4 linked regions of the Homo sapiens genome follow. The protein of the gene in region 4 purifies or fractionates together with the protein of the main gene of each other region. This does not show direct contact. Each region holds a gene or a part of one and is shown on either strand. Other genes may lie near its edges.

What was found.
Region 1: the proteins of CAMK2D (region 4) and KANSL3 purify together in Homo sapiens (affinity purification with mass spectrometry; 2 studies listed by BioGRID and IntAct, with this or other methods). This does not show direct contact.
Region 2: the proteins of CAMK2D (region 4) and MTG1 purify together in Homo sapiens (co-immunoprecipitation; 3 studies listed by BioGRID and IntAct, with this or other methods). This does not show direct contact.
Region 3: the proteins of CAMK2D (region 4) and TRMT61A purify together in Homo sapiens (co-immunoprecipitation; 3 studies listed by BioGRID and IntAct, with this or other methods). This does not show direct contact.

Annotation. Positions count from the first base shown.
Region 1 is NC_000002.12:96,635,153-96,642,857, forward strand, and holds the start of KANSL3 (KAT8 regulatory NSL complex subunit 3), read right to left. Parts: upstream 3,161-7,705; 5' UTR 3,131-3,160; exon of another isoform or gene 3,108-3,130; intron 2,840-3,107; exon of another isoform or gene 2,689-2,839; intron 2,197-2,688; exon of another isoform or gene 2,034-2,196; 5' UTR 1,984-2,033; coding exon 1,769-1,983; intron 1-1,768. Other genes in the region: FER1L5 (fer-1-like protein 5), read left to right, coding at 7,685-7,705. UniProt on the Homo sapiens protein: Non-catalytic component of the NSL histone acetyltransferase complex, a multiprotein complex that mediates histone H4 acetylation at 'Lys-5'- and 'Lys-8' (H4K5ac and H4K8ac) at transcription start sites and promotes transcription initiation.
Region 2 is NC_000010.11:133,397,079-133,404,674, forward strand, and holds part of MTG1 (mitochondrial ribosome-associated GTPase 1), read left to right. Parts: intron 1-1,356; coding exon 1,357-1,437; intron 1,438-2,091; coding exon 2,092-2,148; intron 2,149-2,450; coding exon 2,451-2,541; intron 2,542-4,450; coding exon 4,451-4,512; intron 4,513-5,070; coding exon 5,071-5,167; intron 5,168-5,613; coding exon 5,614-5,695; intron 5,696-7,596. UniProt on the Homo sapiens protein: Plays a role in the regulation of the mitochondrial ribosome assembly and of translational activity. Displays mitochondrial GTPase activity.
Region 3 is NC_000014.9:103,531,600-103,537,573, reverse strand, and holds the end of TRMT61A (tRNA (adenine(58)-N(1))-methyltransferase catalytic subunit TRMT61A), read right to left. Parts: intron 4,993-5,974; coding exon 4,726-4,992; intron 3,025-4,725; coding exon 2,753-3,024; 3' UTR 501-2,752; downstream 1-500. UniProt on the Homo sapiens protein: Catalytic subunit of tRNA (adenine-N(1)-)-methyltransferase, which catalyzes the formation of N(1)-methyladenine at position 58 (m1A58) in initiator methionyl-tRNA.
Region 4 is NC_000004.12:113,758,341-113,766,212, forward strand, and holds the start of CAMK2D (calcium/calmodulin-dependent protein kinase type II subunit delta), read right to left. Parts: upstream 3,399-7,872; 5' UTR 2,729-3,398; coding exon 2,664-2,728; intron 1,075-2,663; coding exon 980-1,074; intron 1-979. UniProt on the Homo sapiens protein: Calcium/calmodulin-dependent protein kinase involved in the regulation of Ca(2+) homeostatis and excitation-contraction coupling (ECC) in heart by targeting ion channels, transporters and accessory proteins involved in Ca(2+) influx into the myocyte, Ca(2+) release from the sarcoplasmic reticulum (SR), SR Ca(2+) uptake and Na(+) and K(+) channel transport.

The sequences.
Region 1 (7,705 bases), on a different chromosome or scaffold from region 4:
CAACAAAAAATCCAAAATGATCTTTTTAAAGTATAAATTGAATCTCTAGTTTAAGATCCTTCAGTGACTTCTTACCACTCTTAGAATCAAATTCCTTCACGAGGTAACCCTTGCCAACTTCTCCCTACCTCCCACTTATACCCCTACTGCTATTATATTCTGGCCACACTGGCCTAAAAGAGTTCTTACAGCATGCCAAATTCTCACTTTCAGGGTCTATATTTGGAGACAGAGATTATAAAAGGAAACAATTTTCTAAGTACCAAAAGAACCAAGTCCACAGAATCTCACTTTAAGAAAATGTCATGAGATGTGGACACAGGAGTTTTAATGTCAGCAAGAAGCTAATATGCAGCAAAAAAGGAAAAGACTTCAACTACTATTTAAAGGAGCTTTTCAGTTATGCCCTAGGCCAGAGGCATCAAGATTATGCTAAATTATTGCCTAAAGTTACAGATTTTATCTCCTGTACACCAAAAAAGCCAACAAAATTATAAAGTCATTGGGAAATGAAATAAAAGACACTATTCTGCACATGTTTAAAACACACAGTGGGTCAGGAGCGGTGGCTCATGCCTGTAATCCCAGCATTTTGGGAGGCCGAGGCGGGTGGATTGCCTGAGGTCAGGAGTTCGAGACCAGCCTGGCTAACATGGTGGGTGGAAACCCTGTCTCTACTAAAAATACAAAAATTAGCCAGGCACAGTGGCACACGCCGGTAGTCCCAGCTACTCAGGAGGCTGAGGCAGGAGAATCGCTCAAACCCAGGAGGTGGAGGTTGCAGTGAGCCAAGATCACACCACTGCACTCCAGCCTGGGCGACAGAGCAAGACTCCATCTCAAAAAAAAAAAAAACCACACACACACATTGTGGTATCTCTAACTCATTAGGTCATTAAGTCTCAATTCCAGGAGGGGTGACTCTAAAGAAGCCTCTACAAGGGCTCTAACCCCCAACAAAATTAAAACCAGTGCTTAAGGAAAGATTAAACATTAGGTCAGATTAAAAACAAACAGACAAAACTCTTCTCCAAAAGTTTACAAAATTATTAAGGACATGATTTGATCACCATAACGGAATATATCAACACATCATGAAACATAATTAGAATGCCTTAAAGTGCAAAAGAACTGGCAAACAGGTTTATTTAGACCAAATGTAACTGTATCACTCATCAGGTAGTCAATTTATGAAACTTCCTTACCCTATAACATAGGCTGGGTGAAAATATCATTAGACATAAGAAGGGTTTAGATTAACCTATGGATAGCAGCTCTGTAACAAGGGAAGAGAAAAAGCAACGTCTTGGGAATTGGCTCCTAACCTTCGTGTGTGAAACCAAGAAAAGCAAAATGCATTACTATAAAAAGGCTATTGTTGCCACTGTCAAGCAACCCAGAGCACTGGACTAATGTGATAAAAGAGTCGTATCCTGTGGGTAATCTTTTAAAATCAACTTTTCAGTCTTTTTCTTCACCAGTTAAATAACCCTCTACGATTTTCCCCTTTCCACACGTCCTACTATCTAAGTGGAATAGGTTGTCTGCTTTTCATTTGCACGTCTTGCTTTCCTAACTCTTGTTAGCTGTCTCACAGAGATAGCCACATTCAAGCCTGCTATCCTTATGCTGCTTAAGAGATGCCTGAATTTAACATCCAAATGCCTCATACAATCTCCCCCAGTCAATCCTGAGAAAATCCTCTCTAAATTCCCATCTGATCACTGCCCAGTGAGGTTACCAGCAGCCCTTAGAAGCCCCAACTCACATGGTACTTTCGTGCTGCCGCCGGGGAGTGACAAAGAGCATGCGGGTGGGGCGGGCACTACTGGCATCTGGGTGGGCACTCCAAGGCTTGGCATAGCTATGATCCAGAAAAACCAGGTCCAGCTCCCGTTCATGCACTGAAAGCTGGAAGAGCAGCGAGGTGCCCATGCGTCGAGCTGAAGTCTGGAAGTCCCTCTCCCCACCCCGGTGGGCCATGTCAGTGGAGGGGCAGAAAGTCAGAGCATGGGTATCTGCATGCTAGTCACCTGCAGTGAAAAGTTTCAGTTTAGGTCAATTCCAATATCCTAAATTTCTCCCAATCTACACCATCTAACATGCTTACTTTTGTAACCTACTATCATTCCTATTGAGTATCCATTTCACGGCAGACCTCTGGTGGGGACGGTTCGTGGAATCCCACACCAACACCAAAAAAAAAGAAAAAAAAAACTATGGTGCCACGAGTTGTCCCATACTCAACCTCTAGCGAACTGAAATTACCTAACGGGAGAGCTCACCGACCCCAAGGTTCAGAAAGACCTCGCGTGGACAGACAGTAAACTTGCTTGGCCAGCACCACTTCCTAGGTGGGCAGGAAGGGTTTTGACAAACAGGAAATCACAAATATGAATTCGTTGAAAGCTAAGGATCTCTGTTGCTTCACACCATCCTCTAACGACAATGCGAAGGGAGCCGGGGCCGCAGCTAGAGCGTGGGCACCCCTAAAGGGCAGGGCAACGCCGGCCTCAAAAAAGCGAATCCCAGCTAGGGCTCCACTTCTTCAAGCCTCTCGTATTGTGCGAAACAAAAGTTCTGTTAAGTACTTCGTAATATTCCAGAGTTGTTTACATAAAAATGAAAACTGCCCCCCCAACAAAGCCTGTGACAAAATGATCCCCGTGGAAGCCCTTTCACCCTCACCCCCAGTGAGGCGTCCCTAGCAAACCGCCCAGGACCCCGGCTGCCCCGCAGGCGTTCCCGCCACTGAGCCTCCACACGGCCCATCTAGGAGACAGGGCTATGACTCGCATTTTACAGACGAAGTCGCCAGCTCGGGGAACTGAAGCGATTTGGCCAAGGTCATCCAGAGTTCGCGACGAGGAGGAGCCGCCTGGCCCCCGCCTCCCGCCTCCCGCTCCCTGGGGCAGGGCTCGGCGTCCGCGTCACGGAGGCCCAGACGCGGCCCCTGCCAGCCCGCCCCCGGCCCGACCCGCCCCGCCCGACCAGCACCGGCAGCCGGCCCTAGCCCGGGCCCCCGCATGCCCCGGGAGCCCTGAAGCCCTCGCCGAGACCCCCGGCCGTCCCAACCACGGCCGCGATCCCCACGGCCCGCCACTCCCCTCGAAGCCAACGCTGCTCTCACCCGCGGTCTTACGGCCGCGCGCTCGGCCACGGCCGGATCCCTAAGCGCGTGCGCGTTAACGCCTCCACGCCCCGGCGCTGCGGGCACCGAGTAAAACGCGGAAGCGGGTTACGGCCTGGGAAGGGAGAGGCGGTGAGCGGCAAAGCCCGGAACGGATGAAGCTCCGGCGCCTCTGTCCGGAAGAGGAGAGCCAAGAACACGCGAGCATGTCCGAAGCAGAAAGTCAACAACTAGGCTGGAGTTTCCCCCTCGCGCATATTCAGTAGGGAAAGCGAGGGCGGAGGACTAGGCTGGCTTCTACGGCCCCAGTTCTCGCCACCCCCACCGTGTTGGTCCTTTGTGCCCTCTGGGCGGTCGAGCACCCAACGGTCCACCTCCACCAGGGCAGCCACCTGAATTTACTCATTAAGAATTTACCTAATGTGGCTCACGCCTGTAATCCCAGCGCTTTGGGAGGCCTAGGCGGGAGGACCTCTTGAGCTCAGGAGTTTGAGATGAGCCTGGCCAATATGATGAGACCCCCGTATCTACAAAAAATTTTAGAAATTAGGTGTGTGTGATAGTGGTGTATGCCTGTAGTCCCAGCTACCCGGGAGGCTGAGGTGGGAGGATCACTTGAGTCTGGGAGGTCCAGGCTGCAATGAGCCATGGTTGCACCACTGCACTCCAGCCTGGACGACGGAGTGAGACTACGTCTCAAAAAAAAAAAAAAAGAATTTTGTTACTGACCCTAGATTGTTTTGTGTGGTTAACTTTCCTATGTGTTTTGTGTAGAGAGAGTAGATCCTCAAAATCAGGGACATTAACCTTTGTATCCTCCAGAGAACATACACCCAGAACATAGGTAATTGTTCAAATGTTGACTGATCAATAATTGGTTATTTGGTTGACTGACTGACAACATGACATCAAGAGACATGAGACAAGACAGCAAGAGACATGGTTCAAGATGATAAATCTCACCCGGGATCTGTGGCTCATGCCTATAATCCCAGTACTTTGGGAGGCCAAGGTGGGAAGATTGCTTGAGCCCAAGAGTTCAAGACTAGCCTGCACAAAACAGTGAGACTTCGTTTCTATTTAAAAAAAGAAATGGCCGGGTGCGGTGGCTCACGCCTGTAATCCCAGCACTTTGGGAGGCTGAGGAGGGTGGATCACGAGTTCAGGAGTACAAAACCAGCCTGGCCAACATAGCGAAATCCTGTCTCTACTAAAAATACAAAAATTAGCCAGGTGTGGTGGCGCATGCCTGTAATCCCGGCTACTCGGGAGGCTGAGGTGGGAGAATCTCTCAAACTCAGGAGGCAGAGGTTGCGGTGAGCCAAAATCGCGCCATTGCACTCCAGCCTGGGCGACACAGCAAGACTCTGTCTCAAAAAAAAAAAAAAGATAGGTACAGACATGCAAACACTCGAAACATTCAGAAAGCCACTCAAAGCTGTGTTCCACAAAGATGAGAGGGTAAACTGAGAAGACGGAAGGCATAGGATCGGGGAAGCAGGGTCTAACACAAGAAGCAGACGAGGAATTCTGAAGGTGATGGCAAAGAGTATCCCAGGACAATAGCTATGCTGCAGGACTGGGGACCACTAGTCTCAGCTGGGGGAGAAGAGAAGACCAGGAGGGAGAGCCCCGGGGAAAACAATAAAACTGGGAAAATGCCTCATAGATTTGAAAAAATCAAGGAATGCTATTTAAAAGTGCTGTTTAGAAATATGGAGCTTAAGGCCATAGAAATTATCACAAATAGAGCAGCCCCTGCCCCACCTCTCCCTACCCTTAACTTTGTCTCCTGGGCGCTTGTTTGGGGCCAGGGTTCTGCTATTTCTCTACTTATATTCCCATTCCCACTAAAAACAGATTTGTATCTTTTCTCTGCCCCTTCCTTTCCTCAGCACACCACGTTTATCATTTTGTTTCATTCTTTGCCAATTTAAGAGGTGATAAATGGTATCTTATCCCATTTATTTGCTTATTAATGAGTTTTTTGTTTTGTTTTGTTTTTGTTTTTTTGAGACAGAGTCTCTCTCTGTCGCCCAGGCTGGAGTGCAGTAGCGTGATCTCGGCTCACTGCAACCTCCACCTCCCTGGTTCAAGCGATTCTCCTGCCTCAGCCTCCCGAGTAGCTGAGACCACAGGCGTGTGCCACCATGCTCGGATAATTTTTTGTATTTTTAGTAGAGACGGGGTTTCACTGTGTTAGCCCGGATGGTCTCGATCTCCTGACCTCGTGATCCGCCCGCCTTGGCCTCCCAAAGTGCTGGGATTACAGGCGTGAGCCACCGTGCCCAGTGAGTTTGATTTTTTTTTTTTACATCTTTTTTGGCTTTTGAAACCAATTTGGCAAAGTCATAAATTGTATTTCATTGTATTTCTTTGATTATTAACAAGACTGAGGGTTTTTTAAAAAAAATTTTTTTTTGTCATTTTGGGCAATTATCTGATAGGAGCTTTGCCTTTGTTTTCCTTTGGGATAGTCATCCTTTTCTTATTAAGAGCTTGCTCTATAAACATTTATTAAATAAACTGTTGGACATTAAGTATATTGAAAATGTTTTCCCTGCTTTGATATTTGTCTTCTAGCTTTAAGGCATAATTTCTACATAGGAATTTTTTATTTAATACAGTCAAATCTGTCAGCTTTTCACTTACAGGGTCTTTTGTGTCACGCTTACTTTGAAAAGCCATTCACAAAGCGAAAAGCACTGTGTTGTGTTTAGATTTCAAGAAAAACTTCCAAGAAGCACTTTTTTTTTTAATCTGCTGCACTAGAAAGCAATCAGCACCCTGATCACTGACCCAGCGTTTCAGTCTTTGAATCCATTCATCTCTTAGACTGCGTGGTACGCTTACTGCTAAGTAGTTGTTTCATTAACTAATAGATTGTTCTTAAACATTGTTTTTTTTTTTTTTTTTTTTTTTTTTGAGACAGTCTTGCTCTGTGGCCAGGCTTGTGTGCAGTGGCGTGATCTCGGCTCACTGCAACCTCCGCCTCCCAGGTTCAAGCGATTCCCCTGCCTCAGCTCCGGAGTAGCTGGGACTACAGGCGCGCAATACCATGCCCGGCTAATTTTTTGTATTTTAGTAGGGACGGGGTTTCACCATGTTGGCCAAGATGATCTTGATCTCCTGATCTCGTGATCCGGCCGCCTTAACCTCCCAAAGATCTGGGATTACAGGCTACAGGCGTAAGCCACCACGCCCGGCCTTTTTTTTTTTTTTTTTGAGACAGAGTCTCGCTGTGTTGCCAAGGTTGGAGTGCAGTGGTGCAATCTTGGCTCACTGTGACCTCCACCTCCCAGGTTCAAGCGATTCCCCTGCCTCAGCCTCCCAAGTAGCTGGGATTGCTGGCACGTGCCACCACGCCCAGCTAATTTTTGTATTTTTAGTAGAGATGGGGTTTTGCTATGTTGGCCAGGCTGTTCCCGAACTTCTGGCCTCAAGTGATCCGTCCACCTTGGCCTCCCAAAGTGCTGGGATTACAGGCATGAGCCACCAATCCCAGCATTTAAATATTCATTAGTTTTCATTCTAACTATTGGATAAGATGTAATTTATACGATGTTCAACCCTAAAGCCTAAAAAGCCTTGCTGTGGACAATAAGAATAGGTGCCCCAGCTCCATCTTAATGCACAGAGGCTCAGACAGCCATAAAGACAGCCACTTCAAAACCGCATTGTCTTCTTTGACCTTCCATATGAGCTCATTAATTCAAAAGCTAATTTCCTTTTGTCAAAGAGGGTCTCGTATCTAAACTTAGGTTTTTCTTAGTAAAAAGGTTTCCACGTTAGGAAGAACTTTCCCTGAGACCTCACAGAAATAGTCCTTGATTTTCCTATCCCTTTTCTCAGGTCACTTCACTGTTTTCTTATTTTCTCATCTACATTGTGTGACTTTGGCAATGATTGGCTCCAGACAACTTGCTTGTACAAGGAGAAAACATCAACCTTATGTCTGACCTTGAAATCAAAAGGACGGCAAGGAGGGCAGGTGTGGGGTGGGCAAAAAAAAATTTTTTAAGGCCAGACTTGGTGGCTCACGCCTGTAATCCCAACACTTTGGGAGGCCGAGGTGGGCAGATCACCTGAGGTCGGGAGTTCGAGACCAGCCTGACCAACATGGAGAAACCCCATCTCTACTAAAAATACAAAATTAGCCGGGCGTGGTGGCGCATGCCTGTAATCTCAGCTACTCGGGAGGCTGAGGCAGGAGAATCGCTTGAACCAGGGAGGTGGAGGTTGCGGTGAGCTGAGATCGCACCATTGCACTCCAGCCTGGGCAATAAGAAAAGGGGGTGAAAGCAGCCAGGTGGTTTTGTTTCTACAGGCCCAGTCACCTATACCCTGTTCCTCCTCCCCCTTCTCTTTCCCATTAATTCCTCTCCAGAACCAAGAACCGCCCACCTTTGTGACAGCCTGTCTGTTGCTTAGCAACAGACAGGAAGTGGGGCTCCACTCACCCCAGGATCGCTGGGAAAAGTCTTGGACTGAGGAGCTCCAAAAAGGAAGCTGTGGCGCTGCGTAGGGAAGGAGGGAAGAAAGTAGGTCTCCGAGATGCTGCGGCTTGTGGTGCAG
Region 2 (7,596 bases), on a different chromosome or scaffold from region 4:
CTCCCTGTGATGCTGTGCTTCAGTGGTCACGCTCCTAGTCCGCCTTGATGTTCCATCTTGTACACCTGGCTCTGTCTTTTAGATAGCAGTAGCAAAATTAGTGAAAGTACCGAAAGTCTCTGATAAGCAGAAATAATGGCGTAAGCTGTCTCTCTTTCTCCCTCTCTCTCTGCCTTGGCTGCCAGGCAGGGAAGGGCCCCTTGTCCAGTGGACACATGACCCACGTGACCTTACCTGTCATTGGAGATGGCTCACACTCCTTACCCTGCCCCTTTTGCTTTGTATCCAATAAATATTAGTGCAGCCAGACATTTGGGGCCACTACCGGTCTCTGCATCTTGGTGGTAGTGGTCCCCCAGGCACAGCTGTCTTTTCTTTTATCTCTTTGTCTTGTGTCTTATTTTCTTTTTTTTTTTTTGAGGCAGAGTCTTGCTCTGTCGCCCAGGCTGGAGTGCAGTGGCGCAATCTTGACTCACTGCAAGCTCTGCCTCCCGGGTTCACGCCATTCTCCTGCCTCAGCCTCCTGAGCAGCCGGGACTACAGGCGCCCGCCACCATGCCCGGCTAATTTTTTGTATCTTTAGTAGAGACGGGGTTTCACTGTGTTAGCCAGGATGGTCTCAATCTCCTGACCTCATGATCCGCCCGCCTCGGCCTCCCAAAGTGCTGGTATTACAGGCGTGAGTCACTGCGTCCAGCCTGTTTTTTTTTTTTTTTTAAATCATCGCAAGTGTTTTCACTAGTTGGTACTTTTACGTCATATCAGTGGCAACTCCTGCCTTTGAAAATGTGACTTTTTGTAGACTGGTGGGTGGCCGTCTAGTATAGGGCACAGCAGTGTCTGACCTGGTCAGAGAAAGGCCAGTGCTTCTGAAGAATCGGGAGAGAGGTAGACTTGCCCCTGGGTGGCCCTGCCTTCTGCCTCCCTGAGCAGGGACACCCAAGTACATTTACTACCCAGAGTGTGTGGCTTCAGGTGTGTGTCTTATGTTTGATCTCTCCATCCGTGTCATCTTCGTGGACAGCTAAATAAAACCAGCTGAATCAGTGAAGGACTTGTTGATTTAAACATCAGTCATACTTTAGGTCAGATGATTAACAGCACTGATGTTTAGAAATATGATACTGCTTTGCACTAGTTTCACTGCATGTTAAGGCCAGTGAATTCAAAAATTATCTGGGCGTGGTGGCGCATGCCTGTAATCCCTGCTACTTGGGAGGCTGAGGCATGAGAATCGCTTGAACCAGGGAGGCGGAGGTTGCAGGGAGCCGAGATTGTGCTACTGCACTCCAGCCTGGGTGACAGAGCCAAGACTCCAGTAAAAAAAGTAACATAGAAATGTTTTGTGTCTTTCAGAAAATTATGCAACACTTAGAAGGAGAAGGCCTAAAAAATGTCATTTTTACCAACTGTGTAAAGGATGAAAATGTCAAGCAGGTAGGCTTTTCGTCTGTGCTCTCTCTGACGCTTCTGCTTCAGTAGGTTCGAGGAGCATTATAAACTGTTTTATGCTTTAGTAAGAAGCAGAGCTTTGGAAAAGATCCTAGGTGTTGGTTTCCAGCTGCCACACACGGATGCGATCTCCTGGGGCAAGTGGGTCTCCCTGTACTGAGGGCACAAGGTCAGGCTGTAGACGCATTCCAGGGTTGTAGGTGGTCAGAGTCTTTTGGAGACTCAGGTAGCTCATGTTTCCAGTTGTATGTGGTAGAATTTTCTGGCTTGATGTGTTTCTTCATTAAAAGGTAGTTACAGCTGTCACTGAAGCCCCGGGTCTGCCCTGCTTGTTTTTGATGGGAGGGGACGGGCATAGGTGGTCCCCGGCCCCAGAGCTCAGTCTGACATCTGTGACCTGGACAGAACTCCAGTTTCCCAACACCGGATACTTGGTGTGCTACCTCCAGATGAAGGGTGACGCCCAGTTTGCCTATGAAATGTTGGGTAGAATTCCAGATAGGAGGTTTCTGTTTTCCTAACGGATATGTGAAAGTGGAGACACTGGAATCCCTAATCCTGTTCTGAGGTGGCAGAAGGAGCGGGTCAGTGCACAGACGTCCGACCTGGGGTGGCTCCATGAGTGGGTGTTTGTTGCAGATCATCCCGATGGTCACTGAACTGATTGGGAGAAGCCACCGCTACCACCGAAAAGAGGTTGGTTGGTGGGGCCCAGAGCTGGGAGTGGGAGGCGGGCGTGGGATGGGCCAGCCCCTCCTGCCTGGCCTCTCCAAGGAGAAGGCGCAGCGCCCCAGGCAGGGAGGCCCCTCCTTTGTCCTCTCATTCTCTTCAGTGGAAAGGGCCGAGGCCGTCCCCGCTGGGTGGGCAGAGCCTCGGCGTTAACCTCCCTTCTTCCCTGAGCTGACCTGGCCTGGGGTCCCCTTGCCTGGGTGGGGTTGCAGAGTCTCAGGCTCTAGCGGCCACGGTGGGCCCTGTGACCCCTCTCTCTGCCTGCGCAGAACCTGGAGTACTGTATCATGGTCATTGGGGTCCCCAACGTGGGCAAGTCCTCCCTCATCAACTCCCTCCGGAGGCAGCACCTCAGGAAAGGTACTGGCGCGTGCGGCTGATCACCTCAGGAAAGGTACTGGCGCGTGTGGCTGATGTGCTGATGCCACCATCTTTCTTGGAGGGGACGTGCCCGAGGAGCACTGCCAGTCTTCTGCTGACCCCGCAGCCCCAGAGCACATCTTGTCTCGTTCAGTCCAGTTCACAGGAGGGCTGAACAGTGGGACCAGGTCGTTCTGTGAATTTCACACTTAATTTTTCTCTCTTTTAAAATCTTTAACATGAAGATGGCTTTTCTAAACTTTGATATTTGTTCATTTATTTAAATCCCTTTGGCCGGGTGCATGGCTCACGCCTGTAATCCCAGCACTTTGAGAGGCCGAGGCGGGCGGATCATGAGGTCAGGAGATTGAGACCATTCTTGCTGAAACGGTGAAACCCCGTCTCTACTAAAAATACGAAAAATTAGGTGGGTGTGGTGGCGGGCACCTGTAGTCCCAGCCACTTAGGAGGCTGAGGCAGGAGAATGGCGTGAACCCGGGAGGCGGAGCTTGCAGTGAGTTGAGATTGTGCCACTGCGTTCCAGCCTGGGCGACAGAGCGAGACTCCGTCTCAAAAAAAAAAAGAAAAGAAAAGAAAAAAAATCCCTTTGATCCAGAGAATACAAAGCGTGTGAAGTAGACGGGGCTGGATTATCAGGCAGGGAGGCTGCAAGGCCATTCCTCCATGGCGTCCGCCTTGCCTTTGCTGGAGGGTTCCTGGACTCCGGAGTCGCAGGCGCTCCTTTCCTCCCTCTGTGCCTGTTCTCAGACTCTGATTCAAAGCAGGAGCCCCGAGCACCCTTCACTGCCCCGTGGGCTCTTTTCCTTAAGTATTTTCAAGTTTAATTCAAGTCCTTGTTGGCTTCATTTTTCATATTAATAAGGCATTTATTAACAAACCCATTCATGATGTGCAAATCTGAAGGCTTTAAACTACGGTGAACTGTTATTTTACAGAGAGGGTGTTTTTGGTGCTAATTGGAGCATTGTTACAGTCATTTATTCTTTTAAGTTTATTTTTAAGCGTATTATTTTTTATCAGTGGTATTAAGTGCATTTATAGGGTTATGCAGCCAGCACCACTATTTTCAAATATTTTGGTTACCTGAAAATGAAACTCTGTAAATACAAAGAGTCACTCCCCCAGCCTCCTACACCCCTCGTTCCACTTTCTGTCTGTGAATTCGATGACTGTAACTGCCTCCTCCAAGTGGACTCACAGTACTTGGCCTTTTGTGACTGGCTGATGTCACCGATCGTGATGTCCTCAAGGTTCGTCTGTGTTGTCCTGAGTGTCAGAATTTTATTCCTTTTTAAGGCTGATCACCCCGTTGTGTGTACAGACCACATCCTGTCTTGTCCATTCATCTGGATGGACACTTGTGTTTTTTATTCTTGGGTTGTTTGTCCACAGTGGAGTGGCCTCCTTGGGACACACCCTGAGCTGGGTCCTAGAGCAGCCAGTCGCCTGTGGACAGTGCTGTGGGAGGCAGGCTGACCTTGGGGTGCAGGGGTGGGTCCAGGAGGGAGGTGGGGGACTGCGTGGAAGGAGCAGCTCAGGTCTGACCTCCGCAGTCTGACAGTGCCTTTCCAGTCCTGGGGAGTTAGGTTCTGGTGCATTTGTTGAAGAATCTCAGTCTCTGTGTGGCTTGGAAAGTGCCCTTGCTGTGAGCTGGTTTGTGACTGAAAGTGAAACAAATTATAGCCTTGGGAAGCTCATCTGGCTTTTAGTTTCCATTTTGGCCAGATATGTTTGTTACATAGTCTCCCTGCTTGGCTGGTAAGTTGTGTTTGTTACATAGTCTCCCTGCTTGGCTGGTCAGATGTGTTTGTTACATACGTCTCCCTACTTGTTCTGCAGCTTCTGTGTTTAGTATACATTTGAGCCTCCTTTTCTCCTTTTCCTACAGGGAAAGCCACCAGGGTGGGTGGCGAGCCTGGGATCACCAGAGCTGTGATGTCCAAAATTCAGGTGGAGTCCTCAGGGGCCAGGCCCAGCACTCTGTCAAGAGCTCTGCAGGCGTCTGGCACCTGCCGACCTCTGTGTGGCTTCCGGCTGCTGACCACGCTTCCCTCCCCTCCACTCAGTGTCCCCGCTGAGCACCCCCGGGGCAGGCACTGCCCCTGCCCTTATTCCACAGTCGTCATAGTCTTTGCGCCAAACCTTTGGGGAAGGCACGCTGTTTTCCCCATTTCCAGATGAGGAGGCCACTGTCCAGGGCCATGCAGTGGTCAGGACAGACCTGAGTGTGGCGCCCCCCGCCCCACCCTCCACTCCCTTCCTTGTGTTCTCCTTGGGAGCAGAAGACAAGCTGTTGGGACCTGACGCTTTTATTTATTCTCCAAATTAAGTGGGAATTAGATCCTCTGGGGAACCCTGGAGCTTGGTGAGAGTGACGCTGCCATGGGGTTGGGTCCCTGAGGCCTTCCTCGGAGCATTGGGTGCCAGGGGCTGCCCAGGCTTCCTGAGTGGCCCACCTGGGTGGGAGGCTGCCACCGCGGCCTGATCATGCCCTCTGTGCCCACACAGGTCTCTGAGCGGCCCCTGATGTTCCTGTTGGACACTCCTGGCGTGCTGGCTCCTCGGATTGAAAGTGTGGAGACAGGCCTGAAGCTGGCCCTGTGTGGTGAGCCGGGGCTGGGGCTGGGGCTGGGGCTGGGACCGGGGCCCCTGCCACCCCACCTTTAGGGCTGGCTTTGGCACAGGGCCCCTAGACGGGAGTTGTTACTGCCTTTGACCTGGTTGCTGCCAGACCTTCCTCGAAGCTTAGTGTGAGAGCTGTAATAGTGCACAGCTGACAGGCACTGGTCACCATTCCACCCTGCCCCATGAGTGGCCTTCCCTTTCCCCATTTGACGGACCAGGGCAGAGAGGTTGGTCGCAGGTGCCAGGCAGGAGTGGGGGCCGGGACCACAGCCGAGTGCCGTCCTCTTGGTTAGTGTCTTTGTCAGTGGCTGGCCTCTTCCTCACGGCACGGTGTCTTTGGGCTAGGACTGGAAGGGATGTGTTTGAACTTGGCAGGAACATAGATGTGGCTGTTTCCAGTGCTCACCTCGGCTGCTGCTTCCACAGGAACGGTGCTGGACCACCTGGTCGGGGAGGAGACCATGGCTGACTACCTGCTGTACACCCTCAACAAACACCAGCGCTTTGGGTGAGTGCAGTGAATGCAGGGCAGCTGGGGCCCCTCCTCCTAGTCACCTCATTTAAAAAAAAAAAACAAACAAAAAAACCCCCAGCATTATAAAGGTATTATAAACACGGTAACCTGCACATCGTTTAAAGCGTCCAGTTGGACAAGTTCGGGAGTATGGCTATACGTCTGTGAAAGCAACACACAATCAAGAAAACGAGCGTTCCCGTCACCCCCAGTCCCTGCTCCTCTTTCGTGAAATCAAGGAAACGAGCGTTCCCGTCACCCCCCATCCCTGCTCCTCCTTCGTGAAATCAAGGAAACGAGCGTTCCCGTCACCCCCAGTCCCTGCTCCTCCTTCGTGAAATCAAGGAAACGAGCGTTCCCGTCACCCCCAGTCCCTGCTCCTCCTTCGTGAAATCAAGGAAACGAGCGTTCCCGTCACCCCCAGTCCCTGCTCCTCCTTCGTGAAATCAAGGAAACGAGCGTTCCCGTCACCCCCAGTCCCTGCTCCTCCTTCGTGAAATCAAGGAAACGAGCGTTCCCGTCACCCCCAGTCCCTGCTCCTCCTTCGTGAAATCAAGGAAATGAGCGTTCCCGTCACCCCCAGTCCCTGCTCCTCCTTCGTGAAATCAAGGAAATGAGCGTTCCCGTCACCCCCAGTCCCTGTGCTCCTTCGTGATCACACCTTCCTGCCCCTCCCTGAGCCCAGGCAGCCGTCTACTGTCCCTGTAGGTTGCTTTGGGTTTTCTAGAATTCCACGTAGATGGAATCACACAGGATGTGCATTCTTGTTGATCTGTCACTCGGCACGATTGTTGTGTGATCCCCGTGTGTCGTCGTGTGTTGTCCGTCATTCATCCTTTTTGTTGCCAGGCGGTTTCAGTGTCCAGGTGCGCTGCAGTCTGTCCCTTCACCCGTTGATGGATATGTGGGTTGTTTGCAGGTTTTGGCTATTGCAGATAAAGCTGCTGTGAACATTCATGTACCGACAGGTCTTTGTGTAGATCCGGGCTTTCGTTTCCCTTGGGTTAATACCTAGGAGTAGAGTGGCTGGATCATAGGGGAGGCATATGTTTGAGTTTTTAAGAAACCGCCACATTGTTTTCCAAGGTAGTTACACTGTTTTATATGCTGGCAAGCAGGGAATGAGTCCTTCAGTTTCTCTAAGATCAGTCTTTAACTTTGGCCTGTCTGATGGGCGGGCGTGTAGGGGTGTCGCATAGCATTTCAATTTGCATTTCCCTGATGACAGGGACGTTGAGCATCTTCATGTGCTTATTTGTCATCCCTCTCTGGGGAAATGTCTGTTCAAATCCTTTTCCCTTTTTTTTTTTTTAACTGAGTTGTTTCTTTCCTTATTGCTAAGTTTTAATCTTTTTTTTTTTTTTTTTTTTGAGACAGGGTCTCAGTTACCCAGGCTGAAGTGCAGTGGTACAGTCTCAGCTCACTGCAGCCTGACCTCCTGGGCTCAAGCGATCCTCCCACTTCAGCCTCCCAAGTAGCTGAGACTACAGGCGTGTGCCACCACACATAGCTGATTTTTGTATTTTTTGTAGAGACAGGGTTTCCCCATGTTGCCCAGGCTGGTCTTGAACTCCTGGGCTCAAGGGATCTGCCCGCCTCAGCCTCCCAAAGCATTAGGATTATAGGCATGAGGCACCATGCCCAGCCTGTAACCTTTTTCTAATATATTCTGGATACAAGTCCTTAATCAGAGATACGGTTTGTAAATACTTTAAGTCTGTGCCTTGTCTTTTCAGCCCTCTTAACAGTGTTTTCCGAGGAGTAGAATTGTTAATTTTCATGCAGTCCAGTTTATCAGCTAGATCTTTTCCAGAGTACTCTTGTTGTCATATCTAAGAAATCTTTGCTTAAACCAGGGTCACAAGGGTTTCCTCATTGAAGATAGATGGTTTTAG
Region 3 (5,974 bases), on a different chromosome or scaffold from region 4:
AGGAGCAGCTGACACCCCGGGGCTTCCTGAGGGAGGGGTACTCTAATCTCGGCTCTAGGGCAGTTCCCAGGACTAGGACCCTCCAAGCAGCTGAGTCAGAGCCAGGGTCTGGGACCTTCCAGGGCTTGGGCAGCTGGGAGTCATGTGCCACTGTCTCAGTGCAGGACAGCAGGGTGAGCGGGGAGGAATTGCCAGGGAAAATCTGAGGGCCACAGGCGAGTACACACTGGGCCAGGCAGGGAGTTTCTGGTGAATCCGTGCCCCATGATGAGCCCGTGCTGCTGACTCGCGCTGACCATCCGGGCCTGCTCATCGGTCACTCACGGCCATGGGCCCAGCTCTACCTCTGAAAGTCAGGCTCCCCATCACAGAACTGGGGCGCTGCTTGCCTTCTGCTCCTCTGCTATGGGGACTCCTTCGGGACATGGTGTGCAGGACTCTCCCGCCTGGGCATTAGATGTCTGGGGAAGCATGCTGAGAAAAGGACATTTGAAGGGGTCTTGAAGGACATACAGGAGTTTAATGCTGGCTCCAGGCCACGTGAGGATCCAAGCTGAGGGAGTGGGGTGAGGCCCAGCTGGGTCTAGAGGGCCATACGGTGGGGGTGGATGCCTGGAGGCTCAAGGTCATCATGGGGGCCTGTGTGCAGGGCAGAGCAGCAGGGCCGAGGGGATTGACACAGCAACTCTGTCCCATGTGACAACTAAGGGTGGGCTGGGACCTCCCGCTCTCCATGTGCGGACCCTGGTGACTCACCCAGGGCTGCCACCAGGGCAACCAGCCCCGGCTGGAAAATGGGCACAACCTGGACCCTACGGTGCCTGAGGCCTATGTGTCCTATAAACCATGGAGCTGCGCCTCAAAGAAACACCTCCCGGTGTCCACCCATCAGACACCATGCAGGCCTTTGCTGTGGCCAGGAGGGGCAGGGCAGGCTTGGGGGAACTGAGATCTCAGGGGTGTGCGTCACCCAGTTCATGACACCCCAGGGACAGCCTGACCCCAAAGCTCCTGGCATTAGGGTCACCCACTTCCATGTTGAACCTGACTGGGGGCCCCTCCTCTGTGCCCCAGGTGAGTAACAAGGTTAGAAGGGAAGCTGGGTCCTGGAAGGAGAGGACAAGCCCTCGGAGCAGGGCTGAGCAACTCTCAGGGACACAGGCCTCCCGGACCACATTAGCCACAGCCCCCGGTGACCCACAGTGTGACACTTCGCAGGGACCAGGCGGCCTGGAGTGGACCCTTCCTTCAGGGGCGCATACAAGTAACCCAGGCAGCCACACTGAATTCCAGCCCAGGACTGTGGAAGAAGGCCCAGCACTCCTGGACCACCCCAACCCCAGGAAGGAGTGGCCTTTTCTGCAGCCAGATGGGGGTGGCCACACATTTGCCCCTTTGTCCTGGAGACTGGAGCGCCTATCATGCCAAACCAGGACAGGGAGGAGCAGGGACCAGGGGCAGAGCGCAGGTAGGGCTGGCCTAGACAGCAGCTGGGGGTGGCCTTGGCTGCTAGGGATCACTCAGAACAGAGGGGGACGGTACGTTTATTGCTCATCACTCACACTTGGGGCCAGGCCCCTGCTAGCATAGCACTCAAGGCCCCCAGCACAGGGGAAACAGAGGCTCCCAACAGCCACTGGCTGCCTGGGCAGAAACCCAGGCCCCCTAGGCACCAGCGGCAGCTCCAAGGGCCCCATGGCTGACACAGGCACTGCTCCTTCCTTGAGGCTGTCAGACACCAGGGCGGGCGAGGAGAGCCCCCAGCCTGGGCGTCCTGCCCTCTGTCCCCACTTTGGGAAATGCCCCTAAGCTTAGCCTTTAAGAGGTGATCACATAGGCACTGTCCCTGGGTGGTGTCCTGAATGCACCTCCCCTACCCCACACCGTTGTCACTGTGGAGGGACCTCCTCCATGCCCTTGGCTTCTGTGAGGGGTAGGGGTACCCACATAGTTCCGGGACTCACAGGCTGGCATTCACACCCCAGCCCCGACACACTTGCCTGGTTGCCTGCGGCAGACAACCCACTCTGCCGCTCCTCTCCGCAGCGCTGCCTGGCCTCAGCGAGTGCAGCCCATGTCAGGGGCTCTGGCTGGGTGGGGGATGCCCCGCCTCTTGGACATGAGTGGACGAAGGCCTGGGCTGAGCTCAGTGCTGTGACATCAGCCAGGAGGCCAGAGAGCAGGGTCACCTCCCTGGTTCCTGGGCTGGCCTGGTCTCCTAGCGCTGGGGAGAGCAGGGCAGGGATTCTGGGTCAGCTCACCCCAGCTTCTGGCCAAGGCTGGAGCCTCGGCCCGGGGACTGGAGAAGCACGAGATGGTCTCAGGCCCCGTGGGGCAGCCAGGGCCGTGGGGGCCCAGGGGTCAGACGCAGCGTGGTCTCAGGGTCAATGCCCCCCTCCCTCCTCCACCCCCTTCCTGCTTAGGCCCACCTGGGAGGGGGTCAGACTCCCCCACCTGCACCCTTTGGCTTCAACACCCAGGGGAGCCTGTGGCAGTGGATACTTCATATTGGCAACAAACAGCAGCTGGGATGGGCCACAGGGCTGGACAGGAATGGCTGAGGCCCAGCCCCAGCACTGCTCCTCCATCACAGCCGCCCTTCCTGCTGTCCCACTCTGGCCACCCAGGAGGCCCCCAAGCCCCACCCCACCGTCTGTGTCTGGCAGGCATCGCTGACCATATAAGGTGCCTCTGGCCTCCCTGCCCAGCCCTTCAGTGCTCCCAGCTCCCTGGTGCCCTGGGAGGCGGCCCCCTAGCCTGGGGTCTTGGTGGCGAAGGTCAGGTAGCCGGTGTGGCCCACGGCCTCCTTCATGGGCGTGCCGCTGCGGAAGGGGCTGGTGTCGGAGCCGGCAGGGCCATCTGTGCCTGTGCCCAGGTCGGGCGGTGGCAGGCTGACAGTGCGCACGTTGTAGACCTGTGGCAGCACCTCCAGGGTGCTCAGCTCTGAGAAGCCGCGCGCTGCCAGCGCCTGGCATGTGCGTTGCACCTGCTCGATGCACGGTGAGAAGGAGCAGAAGCGCCCGCCTGTGGGAAACAGGACCCGAGGGTCAGAGGGCAGGGGTGGCAGAGCCTGGCCCGTCTGGCCCTAGCATCCCTGGACTCCCACCCTAGGGTCTGAGGCCAGCCTAAGACAGCCCCAACACAGACTGCAAGCTCTCCAAGAGCTGGGACTGCAGGGCAGAGGGGCCTGGCCCTCAACTGACAGCCCCCCATGGGGCCTGGCGCCGCTGTTCATGTCACCCAGCTTAGCCATGCCAGGCCCTCCCATGTGCCAGGCACCGGGTCAAGCCCGCGCTGCCATTGTCTCACTTGGCCCACAGCGGGCACTGCTCTCCTGCCTTCCACAGGGCTGCTGGAGCTCTGGGCCCGGAGCAGCTCTGACAGCACGGCAGCGTGGGGCGGTGCGGGGGCCGCTGCTGTCACAGGAAATTAGAGGCTGTCGCTGCTCCCGGGAACAGGAGGCGCCTACTCGAAGCAGAGCCCGAGCATGACAGCCCCTCCCTGCCGCCTCCCACCAGGGCAGCCACGGGCTTCACTTGGCCTGGCCTGCAGTGAATGAGAACCCAGCCCGGGTCCCTGTCCTGGCAGGGAGGACCTGGGGAAGCCAGGGCCGGGTAGAGGTATGTGGCCCAGGCAAGTGTCCTCAAACGTCCCTGAGGTTTGGTCTCCTCAGCTGTACCCTAACACGGGGCCGCCAGGAGGTTCGGGGTTAGAGGAGGCACCTGCTGTGTGACAACAGCCTAGACAGGGCACAGAGGCTGAGCATGCCGCATCCTCCCCAGCGGGCTCCCGTGGCCGGCAGGAGATGCCGGGCCCATGAATGAGCCAGGAGCCTTTGGACCCAGAAGGGGGAGCTCGCAGGGAAAGGGACAGGTCCCAGAGGCAGGCGCGGGTTCCCCGAGCCACGCTGGAGGAAGGAGTCACAAAGGCAGCAGGGGGGCCCCAGGGGAGGCTCTGCCGGGTTCAGCCTCCCTGGGACTATGGTCCAGGCCCAGAAGTGTCCCCAGAGCAGGAAGCCTAGGAGGCAGGGTGTGGAGATCCCCACAGCTACCCACCTCAGCAGAGACCAGGACCCAGGAGTCAGGGCTGGGCTGGAGCCAGCAGGGGACCCCCGGCCACAGCCTTGCTGTTCGCACCAGGCCTCGGCTCATCTTTGAGGTGGGGTGGGGCGCCCAGCACCTCCACCCTTCAACCCTCTCAGAATACAACTCTCAGCTGGGAAGAAGGAAGGGGCCCCTGCTGCCTGAGCTGCTCCTTCTCCAGAAAAGGGAAAAACCCTGGGCCTCCCAGCCACCTCCCTGGCTTGAGGCCCGACCTTCCCCAGGGCTGCCCCGCCTCCGCACCCAGCATCTTCCCTAAAAGGGGCCAGCTCCCTGGGCTCCAGAGCCTGGGGGAGGAGAGGTTTTGGGAAACAGCAGGGAGGGGACTCCAGACTCCTCCGGCCGGGCCTGCCCTGCACTTGGGTGGCGCTGCCACCTTCCTCCATCAGGGGGTTGGGAGAGGCCAGAGACCAGGAGCAGGGCCCAGCCAGGGACCATCCTCCCCAGCTCTGCCTCCCCTGGCCAGCCTGACCCACTCCTCACCTCAGGCCAAAGTGGGGCCCTGGCCTGGCCACTGCCATGGTGTGGCTTGGTCTCTGGACCCCTCTGAGATCCCAGGAGCTCAGTCCTGCACCCTTGCCCCACCCCCACCCAGGCTGTACCTCTCCCGGAACCCCGGATGCACCTTCGACCTTGAGGGCGTCCCAGGCGTGGCCCACGGCCTCCCAGGGTGATGGGATGTCCAGGAAGACGGCGTCGGCCACGTGGCTCACGCCAAAGCCACTGCGGCACACGTCCTGGGTGCGCACAGTCACCCAGCGGCCCACACGGTGCTCCTGGAACTCCTCCCGGGCCTTCTCTGCCCGCTGCTGGTGGAACTCCACCGTGTGCAGGTGACCCGTGGGTGCAATGGTGCGGATGATGGCGTGGGACACAGAGCCACTGCCGGTGCCTGGCAGGACAAGAAGGGATGGGCAAGGCATCAGTTGGGACTGCTCGGGACCCACAGCCTCCCAGGAAACAACCCCCACCTCACCCTGGAGACCCACACAGGGCTTGGGAGGACCCCAAGCTACAGGTGGGCGTCATTCCAGGGCTGTATGGTCCTGGCTGCCTAAAGCCCCAGGCTAGCCCTGGGTTGGGCACCCTGTCTAGGGGTGAGCTGGGGTTGACAGGCTGTGTATGCCGTGCTGTCTGTTGTGGGCACAGGCGAGGCCAGTGGCAACCCTGCCCTATCCTGCCTAGCGCAGGTATAGGGAATGAGAGCAGCCCAGCTGCCTGGAGCCTCCGGGGAAATCTGTGCAAGGGGGACAGGGAGGCCATCCCATCACTCAGCCCTGTCTTATTCCATGCATGGCCCATCACTTCCTCAATCCCCGTCAACAGTGGCCCACCCTGCCGGTCCTCATGCCCACCTCTCCCCAGAAGCTCCTTGGTCCCCTTGAGACAGCCCACCCCCACCAAGCCTGCCCAAACCTGCCCCCACCACACAGGGGCTGGGGCTCTGCCCTGGCCTGGTTGGACTCAGGACGCAGGGCCTGGCCACCAGCCACACGGCCCCAGTCCTCCCCAGCGCACCTGCCCCCAGCTTCCCTCCCCAGCTTCCCTCAAGATGGCCCCTCTGCTTGACTTCCTGTCTTATGGAGAGGGTCAAGGCTTGCATCCCTCCTCCCACTCCAGCTTCAGGGGCCATCTACCTGATGCCACTCCCATCCCCAGGCCCCTCCACTGGAGACTCCTGCTAGAGCAGCCACTGCACACTTGCCACCCATGCCTGGAACCCAAATAGCGCTGAGCATCGCAAGTGCTTGGGCCAGACCCATGGAGGTGCCTCCACTCCCTCTATCCCGTCCCACGTCCTGCCACCTCCCACATTCCTTTCAGGGGCCAGCCCCTCTCCCCACCTGTCCAGCCCCTCCCCTGGGTGCCCCCAG
Region 4 (7,872 bases):
AATAAATATGGAAAAACTAATCATGGCAGAGACCGAAAGCAATGATGCCAGGATTTTGGTAAGAAGCACTTTTGAAAAGACATATTAAATGAGGAAAACTAAACCTAATGGAATTTCTTCTCTCATTACTTAAAATAAACCAGGTCACTGAGATGAGCGTACACTATGGTATTTTGTTCATTTTCATTTCATTTTTATACCATAAATTCCCATGGAAATACCTCAGACACGTGCCCACAATAATTGGAATGCCTAACATTTCAGCGTAAGTACTTTTGCATGAGTTCTACTAAATAAAAAGAATGCAGTGAGAGCCCTCCAAGTTTTTTGGTTATGTCAACAGCTATTTTACGAGTATGAATTATCTCTGTACCTATAAACTACATGTGTAAAATACATTACATGAGTCTGTGTGAAGCCTTAATGCGAAGACCAAGGTCTGAGCTGCACACAGAAACATCAAAATAAAACTAAACTTCCTAGAATATAGCAATCATAAATTTTCTTACCAAAGCTATTACTGTTAAATATACCTTGATGAATTAAGTTCAAGTGTAACTACAATTGAAATGTATGATTCAACTGAGCTATGACCTACTTCCCTCTCAAAAGCAAAAGGGAATTATGACAGTTGTGAGACTTATATTTTTCCATTCCATGGTCTAAAAGTTGTTTTATACTTAAACTATAAGCAAAATGCACCTGACATTTATTTGCTTTAAAATATAGTTATTCATGCTATTGCTCATAGGACAGATAGAATTTTAATAGCAATGTATCAAATAATAATTATATCTTTCCATGTATTTTTAAGCTGTACAGACCAAGAAGCATTCAGGAAGAAAATAATCTTAATATATAATATGATACCTAAGTCTAAAGTTCAGTTATAACTACATGATATATTTACATACAACAGAACCTATAATCAACATGACAAATACAAAATTAACCAATATATGTGGTTGAAAATACCCACCCCTAGCAGAAAGCTTTTTGGTGTTGATAATTTTGGCAGCATATTCTTGTCCAGTAGGAATTTTCATACATCTTCTCACCACTGAGAATGCCCCCCTGGAAACCAATAATTAGCAGGTCATTAATATAACAGATATAATATTTCATTAAAAATTTATAAAATCTGAGCATTTTTATTGATTTTAGTGGATTGCCAGTGAAGTACAGTAATATCCAGTAAATGAACAATTCTTCCTGGAAACCCAGACTTTCTTTAATGTTGAAGAATAAAAGTAAATTTTATTTAACTGGGAGCACACATTATTAATCAACAAAATGAAAGGAACTGCCAATTATGACCGCTCTTGTTTGCACAAGAAATTTGAAAACATTTTACAGTTCACACTCACAGCACCAAATGCTCTGAGAAAAACCCTGCACAGAACAGAGCAGACGAGGAGCAGCAAAAAAATCTGCTGCCTACTTATTTTGGTAGGAAACAAAAAATTAATGTGGTTCCAAGTAAGTAAACATGACGATTATTTTCATTAAAATATAAATCTTGAGCACATTAGTGTGGTTTAACAAATCCTGGTATGGTGATTTCTCTATGCCTTGTTTTGGACTGGGGGAGGGGAGAGATTTGAATTAAGCTGCTCTTCCGACATATTCTCCATGTTTTAACACCAGACAATATATACATATGTAATTTTTATTACTTTTAAAAATATTTACCTTTCCTTTAATTACAGTATAAACCAACAACATACATATAAACGCACTCCTTTCATAAAAGTAACAGTCGAAACTAGTGAAAGAGGAATTGGGTTTGGGTTCCATGCTACAAAAATCAGCATTCACGGCTTGGCCCCTAGGTCCCTTTGCATAAGTCCTCAGTAGGTCTCCTGCCTCCTTCCCTAACATCTCCAAGTAGTTCTGCCAGTCGGGTGAAGGAGGTGGTTTTACACAATGCTAGGCTACGCTTAAGAGCGCTCTCAGTCTCCAGAGGGCTTTTCCGTTGCCTGTATAAATAAATCCTCCCAGAGAACGCAAAGATGCACACGTAAATCCTAGGAAGAATGATGGTGAGCGGTAATCTGGTGCAAAGAACAACACTGGATATAGGGCAAGGGGTTGGGTTCTGTTGGGTGGCCCTTTTCCTGGACAGAACAACTACTGGATGCGAAATAGACTCTATGCCAAGTTGAACTTTCGGCATCAATAAATATGGCACCGTCTGAGGCTGTGAGTTCTCATCAGTACCTGGGTCATACGGCCGACACGCCGGCTAACCAGGAGGCATCTCTATTTACAGAAAACATGATCTATGTTGCATTTTACATGGGTTCTAATTTCCTCTCCAAACACACATTACACACAGGCGCGCGCGCACACTTCTCAGGATGATAGCTACAACTGCAGAGATCGTAAATTCACTAAGTCTCTCAGTGCAGGAGGGTGGGGGACCGGGAGAAGGTGGGCTAGGGACCATCAAAATGAGCCACAGTTGGAGTAAGGGTCCTACCCCTTCTGTGCTCCCTCCCTTTATTAAGACAGCACCTTCCCCAGAGCTGACAAACCAGGGGCCCTCCTCCCATTCCTCTCCCAAACTCCCTCGCCCCAAGACGGAGGCCGGTGGGTCGGGGGCAACGCGACCCGCCCTCAGCTGGAAAGGGGATATGCGGATGCCGGGCAAAGGTGCTTACTTTCCAAGCTCCTCGAAAAGCTGATACTCGTCCGTGAACCTGGTGCAGGTTGTGGTCGAAGCCATCCTCGGTCCGGGCTGTGCCCTGGCTGGGAGCGCGACGGACCAGAAGCGAGCAGACGCGCGGCTAACCCCGGGACTGGCCCCGCGGCGCTGTCACCCAGGGCCGCTCTTACTTTCCTGGTCCGAAAGTAGCTCGCCCGCGAGGGAGTGTGCGCAGGGGCGGGGCGGGAGGGGAGATGACCAGAAAGGGTGGCGTGGGGTCTCCTCCCCACAGTCCGCCGATCCTCCTCCTCCTGCGGGCCTCGCTTCCTTCTTCTCCACTGGACGCTCCACCCGCCCCTTTTCCAGTCCCTGTCCCCAAATGCAGGGGGTAAAGTACTCAAGAAGAGGGGGCCGGGAAATGGAAAAACAGCCAGGCACGGGACGAGTGGCAAGCAGTTGCGAAACGATCCGCACTGGAGCAGGAGGAGTAGAAGCAGAGGGGAGGGAGTCCGAGGGGGCGGAGGTGGAGTGCAGCGGGGCCGAGGCCGCGGAGCCCAGAGCGGACAGCCTGAGCCCAGCGGCCGCTGTCAGCAGGCTCAGGCGCGGGGCGCGCCGGGGCTCCGACGAGCGTGCGCGCCCGAGGCCGGCTTCCCTCCGGCGGGCGGCAGCGGCTCCGGCGAAGCGAGGCACCTTGGCGGCCTCGCGCTGCTCACGAGCCCGCGCGGCTTCAAGACGGCGCGGCGAGAGAAAGAGCGCTCGGCTCAGGCGAAGCCTCTTCTGCCGTCCCCAGGCCTCCGTCTCCTCCTCCGGCGCCTCCTCCCGCCGCTCCCTCCGCCTGCCAGCACCCCCTCCCTGGCGAAGCCCCCTCCTCGCTGGTCCCACACCTCCCTCTAGCGACTCCAAGCCTGTCCCTTCGTGGATCTCTCGCACTCCCTCCTTTGGTTGCACACACGAGCACACCAGTCTAGGGAGAAACCAGGTGGGTGGAGGAGGATGTGCGGGGGAGAAGACTGGAGGTTTGGGTGAATGAGGCGAGAAGTCACAGTTACCCATTTAAACCCGCACAGAGAAGGCTGCCTCAATCTGGGGCTGACTGAGCGGGAAGATGCAGGGCAACTCGAGGATGGCCCGGGGCAGCCGCCCTGGGTCGCGGAAGCCCACGCCCCTGTTTTGGGCGCCGGGCAGCAGGGACTTCTCCAGGCCGGTTCCCGGGCCACGACACCCGGTGGGCCGAGCAAGGGAGAGCAACCACTTCATCTCCACGCCGCTCAGAGTTGACACAGCAGGGGCCGGATGTGGGCTGTTCACTGCTCTCAGAGAAGGGTCCCAACCCTTCCCACAGCCACCAGCGACTGTCGGGGCAAAACCCAGCCTCAGCAGGGTTCACTGCGTCGCCAGCTCCCCAGAACCGGGCGCAGGTTTTCTCCCTCCCCCGCAGCCCCTTCTGCAAGGGGCAATGACGGCCCCTGAGCCACATTACACTTGCCACCTCCAGGCCCACCTCCCCCGCTGTTTTCCAGGATGGTGGCTGAGACTCTGGCAATCCCCAAAGGCCTTTGCTTTGGCTGTGAACGTTAAAAGAATGAAAGCAAAAACTCCGCCGCACAACCACACCTTCCCTTCCCTTCTGAGTAACTCCCCTGCAACCTCAGTAAGTTCTGATAGTAAGGCGAATTCTCGCGATATTTCCCACTCTGGCGGTCAGGGGGAGGTAGTAGGAAGGCTGGGTGTCGGTCACGCGACCCGGCGGGGGCTGACGTCATTCACATCACGTGAACACGTCTAGACTGTTTCGCTTTGCAAAGGGAAAAAAGAAAAGGGGCCGTCGTGTGTGCTTTTGCTTTCAGCCAGATAGTGGCAATTGAGTGCACTCCGTAAATGGCTATCTGGAAAAACCATTTAGCAGTTCAAGAATGTGTCCTTCCCTTTAGCATATCTGCCATTGTTTTCAGTAGGAGGAAAAAAAAAGTATGCATTACGATTTAAAATAGATAAACTGCTGCCGATTGCTAGAACAACTTCTGGGCCCTCTTTCCAGTTCTCCTTAATGAAACTATGCAATTGCAAATTTAGCCGCAGACCAAAAACAGCGTTATGGACGGTCTTTTTCAAATTACTGCCAATTGTTCTACAGCACGGGACTATAAAAACCTTGCAATCCTATTGCTAATTTGCTCGTGGTATTACTTCATAGACAAAATTTCACAGCTGAAAGATAAAAGATAATTTGCAGACACAAGAGAATCTAAGATTTAAAGGCGCTGCTGCTTGCTCCCAAAGACTGCTATTAATTAATGTTACTTTGTGGTCATAGATAATCCTAATTCCTTTTTTCCTGATCTGGGGAACGCTTCTGCCAATGAGTGAGCTTTTTACTGAAGTACTAAAAATGTTCACAAATTTTAACGTTTATTACAACAAAATTGAAGTTCGTATGTGTTTTGATTCCCAGCCGTAAAAGGCAAGAAATAACTGTGTAAAATGTAGTGCTATAGAAAAAGATGATACCAAGAACTGCATAAAAGAAACATGGTCTCTAAATATTAATAATTGGGCTATAAATTGAAAAAAAAAACACAATTTGGTCTTGGCTAAAGATTTGTAATATCTGAACTATTTAGCAATGTGGCTCCAAGGTGATAATGAAATAATTTAATATTTTTCCCTGAATCTAAGAATGAAACAGAAAAAGTAAAATTAAAACAATAAAGGTAATATAAAAATTTACATCTGGGAAGAAAATTGTTTCTTAAATATTCAAGTAATGAAGTCTACATAATTACAGTATTTATCTCAGTTATTTAAACTACCAATAATTGTAAATGGTTATAATTGTGGAGTACAATAAAGGAAACATAACTGAGTTTTAATACTGATGTATTATTAGACAATAAATGTGTACATTTTTTACAGCAAACACTGCTTAATCTGTACGTACCCTTTCTTTGATTTATATTTTAGACTAAATATTTCTCTTATTTGAACAAATATTTACAGTTATTTCTGAAGTTTGAACCTCCTTAAAAAGTAGTCAGATTAGCCGGGCGCAGTGGCTCACGCCTGTAATCTCAGCACTTTGGGAGGCCGAGGCGGGTGGATCATCTGAGGTCAGGGGTTCGAAACCATCCTGGCCAACATGGCAAAACCCCGTCTCTAATAAAAATACAAGATTAGTCGGGCATGGTGGCATATGCTTGTAATCCCAGCCACTTTGGAGGGTGAGGCAGGAGAATCGCTTGAACCTGGGAGAAGGAGGGAGGTTGCAGTGACCCGAATTCGCGCCACTGCACTCCAGCCTGGGCAACAAGAGCAAAACTCTGTCTGAAAAAAAAAAAATAGTCAGATCAAAGACTTTGTTGTTGTTGTTCTACTTCAACATCATTTCAGGAATAGCTACAAAATAGAGATAAATTCTAAAAAGTGTAGAAATGTAGACCTATAAACATAATAACACTGGATGTTAGTGCCAAATGTATTTACATTTCATTATACATGCCTTACTAACTGCATGTCTGATGAACATGGTAGAGAAAGTTAAGAGGGAGAGTTAGTGAATAAAAAGTTAGTCATTAAAGTTGTTGAAGATAATAAGGCAGGCTTTATTCAAGGGGGTCCATGGTGATCAGAACCACTGCAACCAGGTCTTGCAGGAGGAGAGAGAGATTGGACTCTATTTCAACTCTTAAAAGGCCAAGTGGGGATTTACAAGCAAGGAGCAGGGTAGAGGGCTGTGGATATAAAATGACTAAGTATTCTCCCTCTTTCCTCTTTGGCAACTTGGAATTTAAAAAAATCCAAGACTTCAGTAGTTTCACCCAGAAAGTACAAGTTTCTAATGCTTACATTAACAAAGGCAGATATTAACAGATACTAACATTCATTGATTTCCTCTGCTACAAAGTTATAAGATAAGAAACAGCGAAGAGATAATGTTATCTCTATAGCTCCCCAAAGTGCAGAGTCCATCAGTAAATAGCAGATTCCTGTGAAAATTTTAGCAGGTGCTGTGTTGAAGCCACTCTTCACTGCAGATTTGGAGGCTAGGGGAAAAAAGTAACAGCAAGTTGCTGCCTTTCCAAACTATGATAACTAAACCATATAGAGCCAGACAGTCTACTGATGAGCAGATAATCTGTTTACCAGACCATCCATTAGTGCAAGATGAATTTGCAGTTAAAAAACAAACTATTCATAAAAGCAAAGCTAACAACAGAAGATATTTTCTTTGTTTCATCATGTGCTGAAAGAATCTTTTTCCTAAAAATAAAAATAAATGTGCAAATAAATAAGAAAACAAGTGATATCCATACAATGAAGAAATGTCTCTTTTGCATTACTTGCAAGTACATTGGTCAGCATGCTTGACCCTCCATGAACATACATGTTTCCCTGACACTCTGCTAAAAGAATTGCAGTAGGAAGGTACATTAAATAAGATGTATAATACACAATAATTGTATAAAAGGTTATAGAGTCATTAATAAAGAAAATAACAGATTTTGACTCTTCTGTGTACCTCTAATGATTTTCATTGACTTTCAACTTTGCAAACACTTATTACACTGGACTGTAATTAGACTGTCAGACCCTTCCTGGCAGGGACTGTCATTCAGTCCCCCCACTGTATCACTAGCACAGGGTTTTTGCCACAACAGGTGCTCAAAAATACCTTTTTTTTAAAAAAAAAAAAAAACAATATTATGGTATTAACAGTCTTGACTTTCCAAATATTAAAAATGCCCAATCTTTAATAGGGTATAATGAGGCCCCTTTGTTGCAATATTTAGTTGATTCTTTGTAATCCTGAAGTAACTTGACTTCTCTGTATAATTTCATACTCTTGACCTGAAATTCTCTCTGTTGGTTTTCATGTCTGATACCACACTTTCTATTCACAATACCTCACCCATTCCACAACATTTCTGCCTCTTTTCTTCAGTATCATTCCTGGTCTCTTTTTTCTCTGCCTCTGTGGTAAGTGATAGTGCTTTCAACCTAGGATTCCATCTTAGGTTGCCTTTTTTTCTCATTTTACACAGCTTTCCTAGGCTGCCTTCATAGCTATCACTGTGTTAATTATCATATGTCTTAAATTTGACTCTCCAGATGTAGACCCTAAGACAAGAATGTATGGAAAAGGGATTTATTGAGGTAGTATTTCCAGGGACAAGGATAATGTTAAAGAAAAAAATCTCATTCAATGATACTTGCTGAAGTATAGTAAG